Linked DNA regions of Homo sapiens. The protein of the gene in region 1 purifies or fractionates together with the protein of each later gene. This does not show direct contact. Each region holds a gene or a part of one and is shown on either strand. Other genes may lie near its edges.

What was found. Proteins that work in one complex are often made in the same cells at the same time.
Region 2: the proteins of PRPF3 (region 1) and CENATAC purify together in Homo sapiens (affinity purification with mass spectrometry; 4 studies listed by BioGRID and IntAct, with this or other methods). This does not show direct contact.

What each region holds. Positions count from the first base shown.
Region 1 is NC_000001.11:150,328,033-150,331,532, forward strand, and holds part of PRPF3 (U4/U6 small nuclear ribonucleoprotein Prp3), read left to right. Parts: intron 1-287; coding exon 288-434; intron 435-2,419; exon of another isoform or gene 2,420-2,466; intron 2,467-3,500. UniProt on the Homo sapiens protein: Plays a role in pre-mRNA splicing as component of the U4/U6-U5 tri-snRNP complex that is involved in spliceosome assembly, and as component of the precatalytic spliceosome (spliceosome B complex).
Region 2 is NC_000011.10:119,004,638-119,008,137, reverse strand, and holds part of CENATAC (centrosomal AT-AC splicing factor), read right to left. Parts: intron 1-3,500. UniProt on the Homo sapiens protein: Component of the minor spliceosome that promotes splicing of a specific, rare minor intron subtype. Negative regulator of centrosome duplication.

The DNA of each region.
Region 1 (3,500 bases):
AAGTTGAGAGAAATCATTATAAATGTGAGCAGTAGCATTTGCAAAGACCTTGAGATGGGAACATTTATAAGAACATGGGAATGAAATTTGTTTGACTGGATTAGGAGAATGTTGAAGTTGGGTGAGATGGAGAGTCTAGTAGACCCTGCTTCTGGCAGGTGGCTATTTGCAAGGTTGTGTCATATTCCCCTGGGAATAGCCAGAAAATGCTGGTAGGGGCTAGGATAATTCTTCCCTTCTCCCCACGGGGAGGGATACAGCTTTTCTTTCATCTTGGGTTCCCTTAGGAGGTGTTTGGTGATGACTCTGAGATCTCTAAAGAATCATCAGGAGTAAAGAAGCGACGAATACCCCGTTTTGAGGAGGTGGAAGAAGAGCCAGAGGTGATCCCTGGGCCTCCATCAGAGAGCCCTGGCATGCTGACTAAGCTCCAGGTTAGTGATTAGGGACTGGAAGCAAAGTGGTTTTGTGAGTTGAAGAAGCAAAAGGTGCATGGGTCTGTATTTATTGTGGAATTTTTTTTTTTTTTTTTTTTTTGAGGTGGAGTTTTGCTCTTGTCACCCAGGCTGGAATACAGTGGCGCGATCTCAGCTCACTGCAACCTCCGCCTCCCGGGTTCAAGCAAATCTCCTGTCTCAGCCTACTGAGTAGCTGGGATTAGAGGCACCCACCACCAAGCCTGGCTAATTTTTGTATTTTTAGTAGAGATGGGGTTTCACCATGTTGGCCAGGCTGGTCTTGAACTCCTGATGTCAGGTGATGCACTCACCTTGGCCTCTCAGAGTGCTAGAATTACAGGAGCGAGCCACTGCGCCCGGCTAATTTTTTGTATTTCTTTTAGTAGAGACAGGGTTTCACCATGTTGGGCAGGCTGGTCTTCAACTTCTGACCTCAGGTCATCTGCCCACCTTCGCCTCCCAGAGTGCTGGGATTATAGGCGTGAGCCAGCGTGCCTCGCCTTATTGTGATCTTGATTTGAATTAGTGTTTAGCATTTGGGGTAAACTTTTTTTTTTGAGATAGAGTTTCACTCTGTTGCCCATGCTGGAGTGTAGTGGCGTGATCTCAGCTCACGGCAACCTCCACCTCCCAGGTTCAAGCGATTCTCCTGCCTAAGCCTCCGGAGTAGCTGGGACTACATGCGAACACCACTACGCCTGGCTAATTTTTGTATTTTTAGTACAGATGGTATTTTGTCATGTTGGCCAGGCTGCTCTGGAACTCCTGGCCTCAAGTGATCTGCCACCTCAGCCGCCCAAATGGCTGGGATTACAGGTGTGAGCCACCATGCCAGGCCAGCATTTGGGAAAATTTTATTTCCTGCTTTATGTTTTAGCGTTCTTTGATTTGACCAGGAGTATTCTAGGTAAGGGTATTGAAATTGCCATTTACTGTGGCAAGCAAAGTGTGTTATGTACATTATTTGCCTAATTACCTATGTCGTTGAGTCATTGAGAAAATTAAATGAAATGATCAGAACTCATCTTAATGACAGAGGAGACTCTCCAAACATAATGCAAAGAAGATATAATCCACTGATAAATAATTTTAAGTTGACTTTATTTTTTTTTAACAGGAAGTATTTGTGTTTTTTCAATTGGCATTGTTAAATAATACCACATAAGTGTTTCTTTTACCATTTAATATTTGAGGGGGGTAATAGAACATATACAGAAATATGGGTGGGTGGATTTGCATATATGTGATATTTACAGAAGGAAAGAAATGGATTTTTTTTGTGTGTGTGTGTGAGATGTTCTCTCTGTCACTCAGGCTGGAGCGCAGTGGTGCGATCTCGGTTCACTGCAGCCTCTGCCTCCCAGGTTCAAGTGATTCTCCTGCCTCAGCCTCCTAAGTAGCTGGGATTATAGGCATGTGCCACCACGCACGGCTAATTTTTGTATTTTTAGTAGAGACAGGGTTTCACCATGTTGACCAGGCTGGTCTGGAACTCCTGACCTCAAGTGATCTGCCTACCTTGGCCTCCCAAATTGCTGGGATTATAGGCGTGAGCCACCGTACCTAGCCTGTTTTTGTTTTTCAGGCAAGGTCTCACTTTTTTGTCCAGGCTGGAGTTCAGTGGCGAGATCTTGGCTTACTGCAACCTCTGCCTCCCGGGCTTGAGTGATCCTCCCACCTTGGCTTCCCAAGTAGCTGGGACTACAGGTCACCATGCCTGGCTGATTTTTGTATTTTTTTTAAAGATTGAGTTCCACCATGTTGCCCAGGCTGGTCTTGAACTCCTGGGCTGAAATGATCCTCCTGCCTCAGCCTCCCAAAGTGCTGGACTTACAGGCGTGAGCTACCACGCCCAGCCAATTATTTTCTTTTTTGGGGGGTGGGGGATGGAGTCTTGCTCTGTCACTTAGGCTGGAGTACGGTGGCGCGTTCTCGGCTCACTGCAACCTCTGCCTCCCGGGTTCACGCCATTCTCCTGCCTCAGCCTCCTGAGTAGCTGGGACTACAGGTATGTACCACCATGCCCGACTAATTTTTTGTATTTTTAGTAGAGATGGGGTTTCACCATGTTAGCCAGGATGGTCTTGATCTCCTGACCTCGTGATCCACCCGCCTCGGCCTCCCAAAGTGCTGGGATTACAGGCATGAGCCACCGTGCCAGGCCCAATGATGTTTTTTATGGAGAATGGGGATGGACGTATTCACAACATATCCTTTTGTTATGTTTCTTTCTTTTTTTTTTTTGAGACGGAGTCTCACTCTGTCGCCCAGAGTGGAGTGTAATGGCGCTATCTCGGCTCACTGCAACCTCCGCCTCCCGGGTTCAAGCTATTCTTCTGCCTCAGTCCCTTGAGTAGCTGGGATTACAGGCACGCGCCACCACGCCTAGCTAATTTTTTTGTATGTTTAGTAGAGACGGGGTTTCACCATGTTGGTCAGGCTGGTCTCGAACTCCTGACCTCGTGATCCGCCCGGCTCGGCCTCCCAAAGTGCTGGGATTACAGACGTGAGCTGCCAGGCCCAGCCTGTAATTTTTCATTTTATTTTATTTTATTTTTTGAGACGGAGTCTCGCTCTTGCACTGTTGCCTAGGCTGGAGTGCAATGCCGTGATCTCAGCTCACTGCAACGTCCGCCTCCTGGGTTCCAGCAGTTCTCCTGCCTCAGCCTCCTGAGTAGCTGAGATTACAGAACGTGCATCACCATGTCCAGCTAATTTTTGTATTTTTAGTAGAGATGGGGTTTCACCCTGTTAGCCAGGATGGTCTCGATCTCCTGACCTCGTGATCCACCTGCCTCAGCCTCCCAAAGTATTGGGATTACAGGCGTGAGCCACCACGCCCAGCCCTGTAATTTTTAATTTTTTTATTTTCTTTCTTTCTTTACTTATTTAGAGATGGAGTCTCCCCCTGTTGTCCAGGCTGGAGTGCAGTGGCATGATCTTGGCTCACTGTAACCTCCACCTTCTGGATTCAAGCGCTTCTCCTGCCTCAGCCTCCTGAGTAGCTGGCATTACAGGCGCCCACCACCACACCCGGCTAAT
Region 2 (3,500 bases), on another chromosome or scaffold:
ATACCCACAGGTGTGGAGGGGCAGGCCACCCCTTCAATAAGTAAAATTTAAAAACAACAAAAAAGCCACTTAGCTACTACAGTCTAGATTTGATTCCCCAGCAACAGAATATCCCACAACTCACACTGGGGTCATCCAGTCCTTTTTGTTTCAGTGTTGTCCTTTTTGGTGTATGAAACAAGGACCTGAGAAGCTGGCTCTTTGGTCTTCCTTTTCTTTTCACTGTCTATGTAAGAAACCATCTAAATCTAAAAGTGCCTCCTCCTATCTTTACCAGTCAAATCAACCAAACCTTGGAATTGCCTTGTGTGTGTATGTTTGACAATTTACAAGGTTCAAAAGTAAAAATTAGGCTGGGCACAGTGGCTCATGCCTGTAATCTCAACACTTTGGGATGCCAAAGTGGAAGGACTGCTTGAGCCCAGGAGTTTGAGACCAGCTCAGGCAACATAGTGACCCTGTCTCTACAAAAAATACAGAAATAGCCAGGTGTGATGGTGCACACTTATAGCCCTAGATACTTGGAAGGCTGGGGTGGGAGGATTGCTTGAGCCTGGGAGGTTGAGGCTGTAGTGAGCTGTCATTGTATCATGGCACTCCAGCTTGGACAACAGAGCAAGACTCCATCTCAAAATAAATAAATAAATAAATAAAAAGGCCAGATTAGGTGGTTCACATCTGTAATCCCAGCACTTTGGGAGGCCGAGGTGGGCGGATCATGAGGTCAGGAGTTTGAGACCAGCCTGACCAACATGCTGAAACCCCATCTCTATTGAAAGTACAAAAATGAGCCGGGCGTGGTGGCACGTGCCTGTAATCCCACCTACTTAGCAGGCTGAGGCAGGAGAATCACTTGAACCTGGGAGGCGGAGGTTGCAGTGAGCCAAGATCATGTCATTGCACTCCAGCCTGGGTGACAGAGCGAGACTCTCTCCAAAAAAAAGAAACGAAAAGAAAACTATATTTAGGTTGCCGGTATCTCCTGGCCACTGGCTGCCACTACAGTTCATTTATCTGGAACCTGGGCTCCTGAAGATGCAGCACTGGAGCAGAGAGATGATGTTGACAGGGTGTCTTAGTCCATTTTCACACTGTTGATAAAGACATACCCAAGACTGGGTAATTTACAAAGAAAAAGAGGTTTAATAGACTCACACAGTTCCATGTGGCCGGGGAGGCCTTATAATCACAGCAGAAGGTGAAAGGCATGTCTCATGGTGGCAGGCCAGAGAGAATGAAAACCAAGTGAAAGGGGAAACCCCTTATAAAATCATCAGATCATGTGAGACTTATTACCATGAGAACAGCATGGGGGAAAACGCCCCCATGATTCAGTTATCTCCCACTGGGTCCCTCCCACAACGTGGGAATTATGGGAGCTACAGTCAAAAAAATTTGGGTGGGGACACAGCTAAACCATATCACAGAGGTTGATGAATGACCCAGTCACATTAGAAATAGGTGGACTAAGCCAGGCGCAGTGGCTCACGCCTGTAATCCCAGTACTTTGGGAGGCCGAGGCGGGTGGATCACGAGGTCAAGAGATCGAGACCATCCTGGCCAACACGGTGAAACCCCATCTCTACTAAAAATACAAAAATTAGGCCGGGCATGGTGGCTTACGCCTGTAATCCCAGACTTTGGGAGGCCGAGGCAGGCGGATCACGAGGTCAGGAGATCAAGACCATCCTGGCTAACAAGGTGAAACCCCGTCTCTACTAAAAATACAAAAAATTAGCCAGGCATGGTGGCGGGCGCCTGTAGTCCCAGCTACTCAGGGAGGCTGAGGCAGGAGAATGGCGTGAACCCAGGAGGCGGAGCTTGCAGTGAGCCGAGATCGTACCACTGCACTCCAGCTTGGGTGACAGAACAAGACTCCATCTCAAAAAAAAAAAAAAAGGTTGGGTGTGGTGGCCTGTGCCTGTAGTCCCAGCTACTCAAGAGAATCGCTTGAACCTGGGAGGCAGAGGTTGCAGTCAACTGAGATCACGCCACTGTACTCCAGCCTGGCGACAGAGCAAGATTCCATCTCAAAAAAAAAAAAAAAAAAAAAAAAAAAAAATCCTGCCTACTCTGAAGGCCAAGGCAGGAGGATTGCTTGAGCCCTCAGGAGTTTGAGGCTGCAGTGAGCCATGATTGTACCGCTGCACTCCAGTCTGGGTGACAGAGCAAGACCCCATCTCAAAAAAAAAAAAAAAAAAGCATCTCAAATTATTTAACCAAATGGACTAAGCACATAATAATAATGGACTGTACAGACTGCCAGGTTTCTTTCCTATACTTTGTGCGATTATCACCAGGAAGTTTCTCTCTGGGTCTCATAATCCACAACACCTGAGTGTATCACATGAGTGTGCAGGACAATGAAGACACAGTGGAACACAACTAGACTTTCTGTAGACTAACCTGGAAGGCAGGTCTCTAATTTCCAAACCAGAAGTTCCTGGAAACTGAGTTCAAGGAAATAGAAGAAACTGATTAAAAAAAAAAAATTACAGTGTGGTTGAAGTCCAGAAATTTCTAGGCAGCTGGCTGGGCACAGTGGCTTGTCTGTAGTCCCAGCACTTTGGGAGGCTGAGGTGGGAGGATTGCCTGAGACCAGGAGTTTGAGACCAGAGGAAAAGAAAATGACAATGTGGAATTGTAAAAAAAAAAAATTTTTTTTTTTTTTGAGACGGGGTCTCACTCTATGTCGCCAGGCTGGAGTGCAGTGGCATGATCTCGGCTCACTGCAAGCTCCACCTCCTGGGTTCACGCCATTCTCCTGCCTCAGCCTCCCAAGTAGCTGGGACTACACACACCCACCACCTCGTCTGGGTAATTTTTTGTATATTTAGTAGAGACGGGGTTTCACCGTGTTAGCCAGGATGGTCTCGATCTCCTGACCTCGTGATCTGCTGGCCTTGGCCTCCCAAAGTGCTGGGATTACAGGCATGAGCCATCGTGCCCGGCCAAAAATTTTTATTTATTTGAGGACCAGAGAGAAGTTTTGTGCTTTAGCAGACTCCTCCGTGTTTTCTTCTTTTCACCCTGTTCAAAGTTTCCAGGTATTGGCTTTTTTTTTCTTGCTGTTTTTGAGACAGGGTATTTTGCTCTGTTGCCCAGGCTAGAGTGCAGTGGTGTGATCACAGCTCACTCCTGCCTCAACCTTGTGAGCTTAAGCAATCCTCCTGCCTCAGCCTCCCCAGTAGCTAGCACTACAGGCAAATGTCACCATGCTTGGCTAATATAATTTTTTTTTTTTAGAGATGGGGTTTCACTATGTTGTTCAGGCTGGTCTTAAACTCCTGGGCTCAAATGATCCTCTGTCTCAGCCTCCAAAAGTGCTGGAATTACAGTCATGAGCCACTGCAACTGAATTGCCTTTTTTTTTTTAAAGAGACATTCTTGCTATGCTGCCCAGCTGGAGTGTAGTGGTGGGATCACAGCTCACTGCAGGTTCAACCTCCTGGGCTCAAGTGATCCCTCAGGCTCAGGTGATCCCCCTGCCTTAGCCTCCA